Regions from separate parts of the Homo sapiens genome. Here region 1 is linked to region 2. The links come from fine-mapping of genetic effects on gene expression. Tissue or cell type: whole blood. Region 2 holds a variant in brackets; the other region holds the start of a gene. All regions are shown on one strand. Distances are between the middles of the regions.

The links. PIP is the estimated chance that this variant, and not a neighbour inherited with it, causes the effect.
Region 1: it holds the start of KLHL8, and the variant in region 2 is fine-mapped to the expression of KLHL8 in whole blood (TOPMed, PIP above 0.99).

What each region holds. Positions count from the first base shown.
Region 1 is chr4:87,217,401-87,225,585 of GRCh38, forward strand. It overlaps KLHL8 (kelch like family member 8), which reads right to left and starts at 3,218. Exons shown (of 10, transcript NM_020803.5): 1 at 3,018-3,218. RefSeq lists an enhancer at 2,220-2,832 and silencers at 2,338-2,607, 2,948-3,437.
Region 2 is chr4:87,292,773-87,300,957 of GRCh38, forward strand. MIR5705 (microRNA 5705) reads right to left here and starts at 7,811; the gene lies at 7,723-7,811. The variant T/C (reference allele first, on the strand shown) is at 3,097.

The DNA.
Region 1 (8,185 bases), 75 kb before region 2:
ATGGCTCACTGCAGCCTTGACCTCCCTGGACTCAGGTGATCCTCCCACCTCAGTCTCCCGAGTAGCTGGGACCACAGGTGCACACCACCACATCTGGGTAATTTTTGTTCGTTTGTTTGTTTTTTTGTAGACACAGGGTTTCGCCGTGTTGTTCAGGCTGGTCTGGAACTCCTGGGATCAAGCAATTGGCCTGCTTTGGCTTCTGAAAGTGCTAGGATTACAAGCATGAGCCACCGAGCCTGGCCTCTTTTTTTTTTTTTTTTTTGGAATATAGAGAAAGGTCTCACTTTGTTGCCCAGGATGGTCTCAAACTCCTGGGCTCAAGCAATCCTCCTGCCTTGACCTCCCAAATTGCAGTTACAGGTGTGAGCTACCATGTGGGGCCCTTTAGTTCTTAATATACAAAAATAAATGTGACTCTTGGGAATTCCAATATAAGTAACCAAAAATTTAAACATTCAATTTATAAAACACAAAAACTATCTGAAATTAATGTTTAAGATGTCTGCAATAGTCTCTTTAATCTTTTTAAAATGACAATATCCATTTCAGTTCTCTACAACTCTCAAAAGTTCTTGATAAAAACAAAAGGGTTATTTGTCCAAACCCACAGAATGTTTAACACCAAGAATGAATCCTAACTGTGGATGTGATAACATGTCAATGTAGGTTCATCAATTGTAATATACGTACCACTCTGATGAGAGATTTTGGCTCTGTAGGGGTAGGCGATACATGGGAAATCTCTATACCTTCCACTCAGTTTTGTTGTGAACTTACAACTGCTCTAAAAAAGAAAATTCATTTTTCAAAATAGCAGGTGGGATCAAAATTTACCCAACTTTTTTTTTTTTTTTAGATGGAGTCTCGTTCTATTGCCAGGCTGGAGTGCAGCTGCGTGATCTCAGCTCACTTCCACCTCCCAGGTTCAAGTGATTCTCGTGTCTCTGGGACTACAGGCATGCGCCACCATGCCCAGCTAATTTTTTTGTATTTTTAGTAGAGATGGGGTTTCACCATGTTGGCCAGGATGGTCTTGATCTCCTGACCTCTTGATCCGCCCGCCTCGGCCTCCCAAAGTGTTGGGATTACAGGCGTGAGCCACCGCGCCCGGCCCTAACTTTCTTCTTAATGAATGAAGAAATACTGTTTTTAAAAAATAACCCTCACTGAATGTGAACTGAGTTTCTTGTCAAAAAATGTGCAATTATTACAGAATATATCATCTTAACCAATTATCAGTAATCTTATCAAATGCTAAAAGAATTGGCAGCTTTAAAAATTAAAATGATGAAGCTAAGTGCTCATATGTAGTTGAATAGAGTATCCTTAGACTTTTTTTTTCTTTTTTTGAGATGGAGTCTCACTCTGTCGCCCAGGCTGGAGCGCAGTGGCATGATCTCGGTTCACTGCAACCTCCGCCTCCCGGGTTCAAGCCATTCTCCTGTCTTAGCCTCTCGAGTAGCTGAGACTACAGGCATGTGCCACCACGCTCAGCTAATTTTTGTTATTTTTAGTAGAGATGGGGTTTCACCATGTTGGCCAGACTGGTCTCGAAAATCCTGACCTCAAGTGATCCCCCCGCCTCAATCTCCCAAAGTGCTGGGATTACAGGCGTGAGCCACTGCACCCGGCCCCTGAGACACCTCTTTTTATATTTAGGCTTACGCAATTTTGGTATCTTGAAAGCAATTTTTTTAAAAAGTGACGAAATAAATAAAGTGACTAAAAGTTTGAAGTTTGAACTGGGTCAGTTTGACAAATTAAGAAGGGTGCCAGGAGGAAGTCTGAGGAAAAGCAGCAGCTTAATGCCACCGCCATCTCCAAGCAGCGTTCCAGGCGCCAGCACTGTTAGCAGCAGTCCTCTGCGTACCCAAGAGTACCGCAGGGCCAGAACACGAGAAAGATGCGCGAAGAGGATTTCCTTCTAGAGAGAGAATAAAGAACACCAAGAGTCCAACAATTACCATCTTGTATAGGAGAAAAACAATGCAAAGGAAAAAACGTGCAACCAGCAGATAAAATACTTATGTCAACCCAGGTTCTAAGGACCTTTTCCCAAAGTATCCCTCTAAACTGGTAACATTAGCTTAGGGCAGAGTCAAGAAGAAAGTTATGCCATTAACACAGATGAAAATACTGAACGTTTTCTATGAAAAGTCACCCGATTAAACACTGCCAAGAGGGAAAAACAGTGCAAGTCCAGTAAAGCACGAGACACGTAGAAAATTCAAGCTATGTAGCCAAATCGCTCTCTCTGAAGAAAACAGCAAGCCAACTGAACCCAGCACGGAGTGGAAGGCGTAAAGAGCTGTCATCGTGGCGGTAACAACTCCACCGGGCGGCTGAGCGTCTAGAAAGAGGCTGCGGTTCCTGGTTCCACATCAGGAGGCACTCTCCACAAGGTCTACACCGCCGCTCCCGGGAAGGCACCTCCAGGGCGGCCAGCAAGCCCCCCGAGTGGGGACAGGCAGTGCCTTCCTCGCCTCGTCCCCGCGCGGCGTGGCCCGGAGGTGGCCCACTCGCCCCGCCCCCGCAGGCCGCGGCTCCAGGGGGCGTCCGGCCGCCCTCCCGGGGCCCCGAACCCGCGCCAGCCGCACCGCGCCTGCCCTCTTCCTGGACCCCGCGAAGCACCTGCCTGGGCCCCTCTTCGAAAGACTGGGAGGAAGGAGTCAAGGAGCTGCCGGGGAGGCTGACAGAGCCAGAGGCTGGAGCTCCCCTACGGGAGCCGGGAGCATAACCCTGCTCCTCCCGCCAATGGGGGCGACAAAAGCCGTGGAAGGTTGCTCAGGGGCTGGATCTCCTGCTGTCCGGGCCCCAAGCCCTCTCAGCTGTGGAGTTTCGGTTGGTGCACGAGGGCTCGAATTTCCTCCGCACACCGGAGACCCAAGACGGGACGGTGTTGCGACTTGGGGGCTGGGGTGAGGGAGGGCTCGGCGCGAGCGGACGGCACCGCACAAAGGAAGAGGGGACTGAGGGGAGACGAGGGGACTGAGGGGAGACGAGCGTCCCGTTACCTCGATCCTCGACCCTGTTCTTCCTGATGTCGCTAAGGTTGCAGCCACGTTACCACGCTCCCAGAGCCCCGGCCGCCCTCAGCGGAACCTCACCAACCCCGCGCGAGCACCCGGCGGACGCGCGCTCTCCTGCGCGGCCCCGCGGAGCCCCGGCGGGCGCTTGGCGTCCTCTCGCCTCAGCCCCCGCGAGCCGCGGCCTCTGGGGGCGGGGCGGGCTGGGCGGGGCTGCGCACGGCACTCTGGGAAGTGTGGTTCTCGGGACCTCCTCCCCGAGGCCACCCCCACGGCCTCGCCCCCGCGGCTCCCTAGTGGGCGGCCGGGTCTCAGGGACTGGGCAGTGTTGCCCGGCCTGGTGAAGGCGGACCAGGGCGTGGCGGAGGTCCCCATAACAAATCTTGAAATAAAACACTGCCTAAATACCTTTGAGCTTATCCATGCTTCACTTCTGCGGCGGTACAAAATTTAGTTTCTTTGTATGTCCATCAAATCCCCTTCTGCGGTTGTGAGTGTTCCTGGGATTTATGTCTTTGAAAAAAGAAGGGGAAAAAAAGGTTTGCATTTATTCCTGTGTCACTTTCACCACGTGCTCTACAAAGGATATACAAAACAACTGTGTTTATAAATACACACCCACAGTTTGTAAACCTAAGGAAGCAGTTGATTGACCTGAGAGCTCGCTGCTAAAAAGCAGTGCAAGTGGCCATGCGCGGTGGCTCACGCCTGTAATCCCAGCACTTTGGGAGGCTGAGGCGGGCGCATCACGAGGTCAGGAGTCGAGACCATCCTGGCCAACATGGTGAAACTCCGTCTGTACTAAAAATACAAAAATTAGCTGGGCGTGGTTGTGCGTGCCACCAATCCCAGCTATTCGCAAGGCTGAGGCAGGAGAATTGCTTGAACCCGGGAGTCGGAGGTTGCAGTGAGCTGAGATTGTGCCATTGCACTCCAGCCTGGCGACAGAGCAAGACTCCGTCTAAAAAAAAAAAAAAAAAAAAAAAAAGCAATGCAAGTAAAAGTGCTGTTGAAATGAATTAATTTTTCTATAATGTCAATAAAGTGGAATGTGTGAGGCGGGAGATCAAGAGACAGCAAAAAAACAAAATTTTTTTTAAAGAAAGATATTCCCCTAAATGTGTCTTTTGCCAGACTAACCTCAAACTTTCACAATCCTAGGAGTCTATTTCAGAATAAATTTAATCCTAGGACCTTTATTAATATTAACACATATGAACATTAGCACATTGATTTTAATAGAAATGAACATATATATATCTGTATATATATATGCATCTTCTATAAAAACCCCAAAGCAACTATTTGAATTTGAAATTTTATTTCTAGAAAAAAAATCACATTTTTTACATTGAAATATAAATAATTCTTAATATTTCAAAATATTCCTCTTTAGAGCATTAGTATTTTGCACATTTAATGCAAATACCTTTAGAAAAATAGAGTAAGATGAGTTTTAAAGAAGTATGCAGTGAAGAAAAGTCATAAAATGTGTCTGGAACGTGATGTAAAAATTGTTGGGACTCAGAAATCGATACCCCAAAATATGGTGCTTTGCCGCGCTGAACTGAGGAAGCAGCTTCAAGGTGTCTCTTACCTTCCCCATTACCCCTCCTGCCTCTCAATTCTTTGTCTCTCCCAAAGCACCAAATGATGTCGTTCTCTGAATTTCCCTTATCTGCCTAGAAACTAGACCTGCCAAAGAGGAACATATTTGCCTTACCTGATTTTTCATTTACTTAACTCATATTGGAGGAAGAAAGACTGAAGTCTGTCAACACTCTTGGACAGACTTTTGTCACAAACTATTGTCTGCTGTATGGGCTCAACACACTTTTTCCCAGGCCATTGTATGTTCCCCATTTTCCCCTAAAAGTCCTTTACTATACCTTAAGTTGCCACATTTCCCCAATCTCCCTTTCCCCCATAAAGAAGAGTATATAAACGTCTCTACCCCATTGAGTCATTGGGTAATCATTCTCCTGAAATCTCCCTGTGTTATGCACATTAAAATAAATTTTGTATGTCTTTTTTCCTATTAGTCTGCCATTTGACAGTTGATTTTTCAGTGAACCTTCCAAGGGAAAAGGGAAAGCTTCCCTGTATTCCCTTTATTAAACATAAAACACAATATGTATTTTATTTATTTATTTATTTTATTTTATTTTTTTGAGACGGAGTTTTGCTCTTGTCGCCCAGGCTGGAGTGCAGTGGCACAATCTCAGCTCACTGCAACCTCCACCTCCCAGGTTCAAGTGATTCTCCTGCCTCAGCCTCTGCAATAGTTGGGATTACAGGTGTCTGCCACCACGCCCGGCTAATTTTTGCATTTTTAGTAGAGACAGGGTTTTACCATGTTGGCCAGGCTGGTCTCGAACACCTGACCTCAAGTGATCCACTCGCCTCAGCCTCCCAAAGTGCTGGGATTACAGGCATGAGCCACCACGCCCGGCCTACAATATGTATTTAGTAAGACCATGTTAATAGAAATTTTGTTTTTTATAGCCTAAGCTTTTATTTTATTTTATTTATTTTATTTTAGAGACAGAGTCTCACTCTGTTGCCTAGGCTAGAGTGCAGTGAGTAGCACAATCATGGCTCACTGTAATCTTGATTTCCCCGGCTCAGGTGATTCTCCCACCTCCCGAGTAGCTGGAATTACAGGCCCACACCACCACACCTGGCTAATTTTTTTGTTTGTTTTGTTTTGTTTTGTTTTGTTTTGTAGAGATGGGGTTTCTCCATGTTGCCCAGGCTGGTTGTCAAACTCCTGGTCACAAGGGATCTGCCTTTCTTGGCCTCCCAAAGTGCTGGGATTACAGGTGTAAGCCACCATTCCTGGCCACTTTTCTTGTAATAAGGTGCACAGTAACTCCTAAAAATGCTTATAAAAAAGAGCACAACTGCTCTTTTTCTTCTGCTAATTGACATATACACAATAAACTATTTGTAGTTACTAACAAATCAAAGAAATATACACAATATTTCAATATTATTATCATCTATTTATCGAAGAACATTTTTTGAGCACCAGACACTGAGCTAGGAACTGGGAAATACGCAGTAGACAAAATTGAATAGTCCCTGCTCTCATGGAGACTTAGGATCTAGACTCGGAGACAGAGAATTAAACAGTGAATAATGAAAAGGTATGCATGGGGTGGCCAGGGGTTTGGGGAGCACCTAAGATACACCTAATCTAGAGCCTTTTATTGGGGCAGAGGAGTCTGGCAAAAATTCTGAAAATTAAATGAAATTTTTAAACCAAATAGCTATAAACTGGGGCAAAAAAAATCTTTCCCTAAAAAGTGATATATCTGTAACAATGCTCTCAAATAATTACTTAAAAATATATACAGTATCTTACAAAATAAGACATACCTCAACTAAAACAAAACACACATTTCCTAAATCGGACGAAATGTCTTCTTAGTTTTTACCCATTCCTCCCTAGCTCCATTTGAGAATAAGCAAGACTAGCCTATAATAAGTAAGGATCTAAGAAATTCCTTCCCTTCCCTCAAAGTCCGATAAATTAAAACTGGAAAGGATCTGATAGCTGTTTGTTCATTTTATGATTGTACTTTAGTCAGAAAAAAATTGCAATATTTTAACCCCAATCAACATTTGCATTTTTTTTTTTTAAATTTGAGATGGAGTCTCGCCTTGTTACCCAGGCTGGAGTGCAATGGCACGATCTTGGCTTACTGCAACCTCCGTCTCCCAGGTTCAAGTGATTCTCCTGCCTCAGCCTCCTGAGTAGCTGGGTTTCGGCCTCCCAAAGTGCTGGGATTACAAGCATGAGCCACCGCGCCGGCCAACATTTGCATTTTAAGTCTTTATCTTTAATCCTGGGATAAAAGGCTTTATAACCATCAAAAGAATTTCAGATGTGGGCTGGATATGGTGGCTCATTCCCTGGATGACAGAGCCAGACAATTTTTCTTTCTCTTAAAGGAGTCGGGGAGCAGGGAAAGAATTTCAGATGTGGCTTGCCGAGGGATTTGGAAAGATTAATGAAGAAGGTTATTTTATCTTCATTTGCTAGGGAGGCAAAGCTTGCAACCAGAGAGCAGGTCCCAGAAGAGTTGCTAAGGTTCTTTGTCTATGGAAACGTACTTAAAGAGCCTGAACACCGCCAGCAAGACCACTATCTTCCTGTCCAGGTCAGGGTTACTGGCTTGCAGTTACATTTCATCCCAATCCTTTGACTCCTATCCTGTCACCCTCCTACAAAACCAGCCTTTACTGTGGCACTTCAGCTTCCCTCAACAATCATTTCCCGCCTTTTATCCTAAGACACACATGTGGATGGCTATGTTTTCTGACCTTAGGCTGGTGGCTCAACTTGTGCTGTTTTAATAAATTAATGACAGTTCTTCCATCCACTACCATGCAATCAGCCTGACATAGGTATCTCTAAACCTTTGCTGACCATTTTCTGATATATTTCTCTGATATATATTGTTGTTTTGTTTTTGTTTTTATTTTGTTAAAGAGATGGATGGGGTGGAGTTTGGTGGGGTGCGGGGATGGGGGGATTTTGCTATGTTGCCACGGCTGGTCTTGAACTCCTGGCCTCGAGGGATCCTCCTGCCTTAGCTTCCCGCCTTAGCCTTCGGAGTGGCTGGGATTACAAGGCTCAAGTCACAGCACCCAGCATCCCTGAAATATTTAAAGTTCCCAATTTTTCTGTGGGTCTTTGTAATTGCTGTTCCTTCTACCCCTTTGCCTGGTGAACTCTTTCTAATCATCTAGTATTAACTTAGAAAACTTTTTAATTAGGAAACCTTTCTTGGTTACAGTCCCCCCTCTCCAGTTTTGGGTTACTGCCTCCTATATATGCTCATCTTACAACTTATTTTTGCCCCTAAAGTAGCACTTAGTGAGCATTTTAAGAAGTTGTCTATATCTTTCATTTGTCTGAAATCTCCTTAAATAGAAAATAACAGCATAGTACTTGATGTATAGATGCTTAATAAATACTTGGACTATAAATGGATGCATATCAACTTTGCTCAGTAAACAACCATTCGGTAACTACTTCCTGCCAAGGGCCAGGCAGTAAATATTTTAGGGTTTGGGGCCATAAGGTCTCTGTTGCTTCCTAAAGGACAATAGTCAAGTCTCACTGGTGGCTCCAAAATATCTATATA
Region 2 (8,185 bases):
AACAAAAGTTTAAAAAGTAAAAAATAAAATAAAAAAGAAAAAGCTTATAGAATAAGAAAATAAAGAAAGAACATATTTTTGTATAGCTGTACAACGGGTTTGTTTTAAGCTAAAAGTTATTACAAAAGAGTTAAAAAGTTAAAAAAATTATAAAGTTTCTGAAGTAAAAAAGTTACATTACCAGTAAACTGAGTTCTTCTCCTATTTTATATCAACCAAAATAACACCCAGTTGGAAAAGAGGCAAGCAGGTTTTATTCCTGGCCAGGAATGGAGGAGGGGCTCTCACTCTCAATGCCGCTTTTTCCCGATCAGTAGAGGCATGGGTTTTTTAAGGACTAAGTAGGCACGCAGCCTCCAGACACGCAGGCTCATTTCGTGCATATGTCTTCATACAATCCATGTCACAAAATGGTGGACATTTTCTTTTACAGAAGGGAATTTTAGCGTTACAGTGATATGTTAATGACCTAAAGGCAACTAGGGGGGTCATCTGTTCCAGTTTGTGCCAGTTTGGGGGATTCTGATCTTCCTTTGGTATCTGGTCAGGGGTCAAGAAACTCTGGCACCACCCCAGGCCATCTTATTTCTTTAAGCAGTTGTGTCTATAAATAGACTAAAGAAAAACAATAAGAAAAAGGAACTTTCCCAGTTAATTCATCAGGACTGAACTGGTAACAGTTAGAGTAAGCTGAGGTTAATTTATTTCTGAAGAAAGAAAAATTAGTTTTATAATTTAGTGTAGCCTACATGTACAGTGTTTATAAAGTCTACAGTAGTGTACAGTAATGCCCTAGGTATTGGGGGAACGCACCCCCAATATTTCAACATAGGTTCTTCCTATTTTCCATAAGTGTCAGCCAGCTGAGAAATAAAGAGAGATAGTACAAAGAGAGGAATTTTACAGCTGGGCCGCTGGGGGTGACATCACATATTGGTAGGGCCATGATGCCCGCCTGAGTCTTAGACCAGGAAGTTTTTATTAAGGGTTTCAAAAGGGGAGGGGGTGTAAGAACAGGGAGTAGGTACAAAGAACACATGATTCAAAAGGCAAAAAGCAGAACTACTAGTAAGAGTCCAACAAAGATCACAAGGCAAAAGGCAAAAGCAGAACTACCGATAAGGGTCTATATTCAGTGGTGCACATATTGTCTTGATAAACATCTTAAACAACAGAAAACAGGGTTCAAGAGCAGAGAACTGGTCTGACCACAAATTTACCAGGGTGGAGTTTTTCCCCACCCTAGTAAGCCTGAGGATACTGCAGGAGACCAGGGTGTATCTTAATCCTTATCTCAACCACATAGGACAGACATTCCCAGAGCGGCCGTTTATAGACCTCCCCCAAGGAAGGCATTCCTTTCCCAGGGTATTAATATTAATATTCCTTGCTAGGAAAAGAATTTAGCGACATCTCTCCTACTTGCATGTCCGTTTATAGGCTCTCTGCAAGAAGAAAAATATGGCTCTTTTTTCCCGACCTTATGGTTGTCTTCCCTTGTTCTATAAAAATCGCTGTTATTCTGTTCTTTTTCAAGGTACACTGATTTCATATTGTTCAGACACACATGTTTTATAATCAATTTGTACAGTTAACACAATTATCACAGTGGTCCTGAGGTGACATACATCCTCAGCTTATGAAGATAACAGGATTAAGACATGAAAGTAAAGACAGGCATAAGAAATTATATAAGTATTATTTGGGAACTGATATATGTCCATATTAAAATGAAATCTTCACAATTTATGTTCCTCTCTCATGGCTCCAGCCGGTCCTTCCATTCAGGGTCCCTGACTTCCCACAACATCTCTCCCTTTCTTTTTATATAAATGTGCCATGGCGATGAAGGCTTGTTCATTCTCTTAGTTTTGATGCAGGATTCTTTGACTGGTCTGGCACACTAAAAACAAGCCACTTAAACAGAGAAACATAATTCCAATGTTACTACAGTGGAGCCCCTAATAGACTTAATCCAAGTTGTGGGGTTTAGTCCATAAAGACTTTCTGCCACCTGATCTAACGTCTCAGCTCCAGGCACAATGGATAAATGAGCTTGAGAGGCTTCAAATATTTGTTTCTTTAATTTAGTTATGTCCAAGGATAAATTATCTTCCCTACCCAGAAGGTGTCCTTTGACCATTTCCCGTGAATGATCAATCTCGTAGGAATATGGTGTGATACAGAAATCAGAAGTATTCCAATCGCACTGCATTTGCATGCGATGTTTGAGACTCATTAGCCGATCTCCAAGCCAAATAACAGACTGTCTTAAATCATTAATTTGATTAGCTAATTTTTGACCAATGCCCTGTTGAGCATTCCACATTTGGGTGGAATTGGCTTGCCGATCATTAACAAAATGAGCCGTTTGAATAGATCGGTGTAATGCCACTCCGGCAGTGGTGGCCAGTGCAGTGACTAATTAGGCCCATGATCACAGCGATTAAAGTGAAAACAAATCTCTTAGATCTTTTGAGAATTCGTTGTTAACACTTCATTAATTAAATATACTGAGGGGGAAGATTCCCAAGGTCTGGGTAAAGTTACTGGTATCCAGATTCTTTCTTGAGCTCAAAGCAACATTACACTTTTCCTGGAGTCAAAATGGGGGTTAACACAAGTGTATAAATGACAATGCATTGGACAGTTTGATTGTTTGTCCAAATTTTGATATTTCCCACTAACAGCATGTAAGAAGGCTTAACACAATTCTATATAGGAATAGTCAGGCTGGAGGTAAACAAAGCAGAATGTCTGAATCTACATTGATACTGAGGGAGAGGAGCGGCAGTGGCAACGCCCGATGTTCTCTGCTGTAAAGAAGCAATCCAAGGTGCCCGGGGATGCCAAAGAGGTAGAGGGGCATAACTGGGCTGAGAAGAATTATCATAATGCCAACTGGAGTCCCATAAAGGGGGATCAGCATCAAAACGAGGAAGAGGGTTCAAAGGGGATTTATCATGGGGTTCAGAATCACGGATGCGAGGGGCGGTAGTGGGGACAACAGACAGAAAAGTTTCCCCTTCCCAGAGTGCATTTCTCTGACTTCTCCTGGGACAAACCTGAGAAAAATTTTCTGCTTTCAAAAACTCA[T/C]GTGATTTGGTTTGGCTCACCACGATAATCTCCCTTTTTAAAAGTCAACTGTGTCATATAACATACCCTCATCCCAGGGCAAAATCCATGCTATTCACAGTCATTGGGATTATGCAGGGCATGTACACCAGGAAAAAGTAGTCTTGGTGCCATCTTAGAATTCTGCTGGCCACACATTGTTTCACTACAACCGTTATCAGAGGGACAGCAATATCCAAGGAGCAGGAGAAGCAAGAGAGCTCTAAAAAAGAGACCGAGAAAATCAGCCAAAGAAGTCAGAGAAAAACTGGGAGGAACTGAAAAATACAACCTCCTCACATGAGAGGCCTTCTAGCTGATGATTAAGACCATGGATACTGTAGCTGAACTGACAACTCCACCATTTATTCCTTGGCTGTGTGGCCTTGGATGACAAGGTATTGACACTTTACAGTTGCTTATCTTTAAATTGTAGCCAGTTGAAATCCCTACCTCACAGGATTTTTTGTGATGATTAAATGAGTAAATGGATGTAAGGTTTGTAGGAAAGTGTATCAGAGAATAATAAGCCCTCTATATGTGTTTGCCAATGTTTGAAAGGATTAAATCCCTTTTATATCATATTGATTAATGGAGCATATAATTTCTATTCTCATTGGACCTTTAAAGATTCTTTTTATATCACCAGTTTCCGCCTAGCATCGCTCTGGAGATGTACAAGGGGCTTAGTAAAGGTTGATAGAAACAAACCAATTATGTAATCATAAATAATGCAATAGATGAATATAATACAATTATATGTAGCCATTAAGATTAAGAATAACTTAGGTGGTATGGTTCTTTTTAAAAATTTAAACATTGGCAGGGCCTGGTGGCTCAGGCCTGTAATCCCAGCACTTTGGACGGTCAATGGGAGGACGGCTTGAGCCCAGGAGTTAGAGACCAGCCTGGGCAACATGACAAGATCTCATCTCTACAAAAAAAATACAAAAAATTAGCTGGTCTTGGTGGTGTGCACCTGTGGTCCCAGCTACTCAAGAGGCTGAGGTGCAAGGACTGCTTGAGCCTAGGAGGTCGAGGTTGCTGTGAGCTGTGATGTAGCCACTGCACTCCAGCCTGGCAAAAGAGCAAGGCCCTATCTAAAATAAATAAATAAATAAATAAAATTTAAACGTTTAAAAATTATGGGCCAGGCATGGTGACTATGCCTGCAATCCCAGCACTTTGGGAGGCCAAGATGGGCAGATCCCCTGATGTCAGGAGTTTGAGACCTTGAGACCAGCCTGGCCAACATGGTGAAACCCTGTCTCTACTAAAAATACAAAAAAAATTAGCCAGGCATGGTGGCAGGCACCTGTAATCCCAGGTACTCGGGAGGCTGAGGCAAGAGAATCATTGAATCCCTGAGATAGAAGTTGCAGTGAGCCAAGATCGTGCCACTGAAATCCAGCTTGGGTGACAGAAAAGGATTGCGTCTTGAAAAAAAAAATTATGGTGAAATATACATAATATAAAGTTTACCATTTTAACTATTTTTAAGTGTAAAGTTCAGTAGTATCAACTACATTCATATTTTGCAGCCATCACCACCATCCATCTCTACAACTTTTTCAACTTCCTAAACTGACACTCTGTACCCATTAAATAATAACTCCCCATTCTCCATTCCCCTCAGCCCCTGAAACTACCATTCTACTTTCTGTCTCTGTGTATTTGATCACTCTAGATACCTCGTATGAGTGGGATCATACACTATTTATACTTTGTACTTTTGTGACTAGCTCATTTCACTTAGCATAAAGTCCTCAAGGTTCATCCATGTTGTAGCATGGTGTCAGAATTTTCCTCTTGTTTAAAGCTGGATAGTATTCTACTGTATGTATATGCCACATTTTGTTTATCCATTCATCCATTGATGGATATTTGGGTTACTTCCACTTTTTGGCTACTGTGAATAATGCTGCTATGAATGTGGGTGTACCAATATCTATTTGAGTTTTCTTTTCAATTCCTTTGGGTATATACCCGGAAGTGAAATTGCTGGATCATATGGTAATTCTGTTTACATGCAATGGTTATTTTAATATTGTATCTTGCCCCCCTTATATTTAGTTCAAAATCTGAGAACTCATCACTATGCTGTACTCTCTTATTGCCTCAAGACTTGTGCACTTTATAATTTTAGATACTCTTGTAAGCACTGGAAATCCTTTCTGAAATAAAGGTGGGTAGAAAGTAATCAATAAATACCAGCTATAATATGTTAACTTCACTTTTTCCATGGTCAATAATAGATAATCTATACATAACTATTAAATACATGGCTCAGATAAATGTACTTATAGCAATTTGAAATTTTGCATGGTTTTATATTGTGACTGTATATATGCCTGTATTGTGAAATTTAATAGCATACATATATTTATCTTTATTTATAAATTGGTTATTTTATAACTTACTATTTTCTTCTGTGCTCTATCCTCCACTTCAGTGCTAGTTTTGTCTTTCTCAACCACAGATCTGATCTCGTTGGTTTTATGTACTCTACTCTTGCATGGCTTGCCTCAATAAAATCCAAATCTGTCAACATGTTTTTTGAAACTCTGTACTGTTGGGCCCCAAACATCTTTTCCAAGCTGTTATTCCCCCAGATTCCCAGGTGCATGATCCATGTTGACCCTGGATGACTTACCATGCTACAAACGCACAACTTGTAAAACATTTTGTACCAACATGCATGTTTGTTCCCTGTGGCATATTCTTGCACCTCCTCCTCTTTAATATCTTTAATTGCATCTCCTCAGCAAAGATTTGCCCTGTCACCCAAATTAATCATGCTGTCTATTCACAAAGCACTTGGTTAGTAACTTTTCAAAGGGACTAACCCTATTTTTCTTTGAGTGAGTTGTTATTTACAAACAGGCTGGATTAGCTGATCTGTTGTAAACATCTTTAAAGCAAGGATCACATCTTCCTCTCTGATTTTTCTACATTCTAGCATCATGTATTTCCTATCAAAGTTGCCGAGTGAATATCTTTTCTTGAATGAATTGTAGAAAAAGCCTTGTTTTGGCTTGAAAAAGTCTATGAGTTGTTGTAGTTTATCTTGAATATTTCTACATTAAATTCACCAGCATAGAAAATAATACTCTCAAATGTGCAATATTGTTAGATAACAAGGTACACTGGAACTGCAATATTGTTTGAAATATTTAAATCACATCATTCCAAATTGAATTCAACATCAAGTGGTCTTTTTTTTTTTCCTGCTACATAGGTAATACAGGATAGTTTTGATGACTGAAAAATAGGCTATGTTTCCAGACTAGATTAGAATGTGGGGAGAAGCTTAGAAAGAGAAGGCTGAAAAGAGAAAGAGAACAATGGAAGAGAAGTAGAGAACTAAATGCATCAAATTAATTGAACGAAGTCTGAACTAATTAGTAAAGAGCCATCAGAAGGAAAGAGGTGTTGAGAAACAGAAAGTCAAAAAATCCAGGGCTGGGTGCAGTGACTCACGCCCATAATCTCAGCACTTTGGGAGGCCGAGGCGGGCTGATCACTGGAGGCCAGGAGTTCGAGACCAGTCTGGCCAACATAGTGAAACCCTGTCTCTACTAAAAGTACAAAAATTAGCTGGATGTAGTGGTGCATGCCTATAAACCCAGGTACTCAGGAGGCTGAGGCTGGAGAATCCCTTGAACCCGGGAAATGGAGGCTGCAGTGAGCCAAGATCACACCACTGCACTCCAGCCTGGGTGACAAAGTGAGACTCTGTCTCAAAAAGAAAAAAAAAAAAGTGAAAAATCCTAGTTATTGGAATTAGGTATGGGAACAGGCAATTTGGTTTTCAGTGTTGTTTGGGAATATTTAAGTCTTAATTTATACAAGTTAGCCTCACATTTAAAAGTAAGAAGATCTCTATTGAGATAATGGATCATTACTGGAGTGCAATTGGTAAATGACTTCACTTTTCATAAGTGTTTTGATGTGAATTTATGAATATTCTCTAGCTGCTCACTGGGTTTGTGAAGTTAGTTTGAATGAGACATGATTGCACCCTAGGCAAGTCAGAATGTACTTGCTTTGATTTCACTGTGATTACTTTTACTATAAAAGATTCCCATTAAATACAAGTAAGTTCCCACTTAACTTTCCTGTAATTCCACCCTTGCTGCAAGCAGCTGACAGGCAAATTTGATCAGATGTAATACATCCAATCAGATAAAGAAGGGGTTTCAGCAAAACACTTGGCAGATTTGAAGAGCTGAATAGAAAAGGTCATGAGCTGTCTGAAAACTTTTAGACACAAGAGGAAGCAAATAGTAGAAAGCGTGAGAGCACTCTTAGGACAGGGATTGGCATTTCCCCCTTACGGTTTCTCACGTAATTTGTGAAGACATAAACACAAGGGTAACTGTTAAATTCGTTGTAATTATCACATGTACAGAACAGCCCAGTTCACATAATGCTGCACTAAATTCAAAGTTAGTGTTATAAAAAAAGATGCCTCTAAAACATATGAATTACCTAGGAGTTTTTAAAAAATGCAGATTCTGATTTTGTAAGTTTGAGATGGGTTGCAACAGTTTGTATTTCCAACATGCCTCTCATGCGGCAGCCATGCTGCAAGGGCATGTTTAAACTTCCCCATTTACACAGGCCATGAGCCCCGAAACACCCATCAGCAATCCTGGGATGGGTGTTTCGGGGCTCATGGCCTGTGTAAATGGGGAACTTTAATGTTAGATGTTCATTCCATCTTTGGAAACATTATTATATAGATCATATAAGATTTAGATTAGAAACTAACCAAGCATTTTCTCTTCAACCATACATTTACTCTGCTACTCCTTTAAGCTTTGCATACAGTTGAAGATTGGCTGTACCTATACCACCCTCAGATCTGAGCAAGTGAGGGCCTTACCCCAGTCCTGTGCCTCATAGAGCCTTATTCTTTGGAGTGCCCTCTATGAAATTTTCCAAGTCCTCTTCGGATGCCTGCTCTGTTTTTTCTCTCTGGGGTACTCTCCCTTTCTCTCCCTGTGTATAAGGTTGACCAGATATCCTGGGGAGCTCTGCAACTTGTAACTATAGGATCATCCTGGGG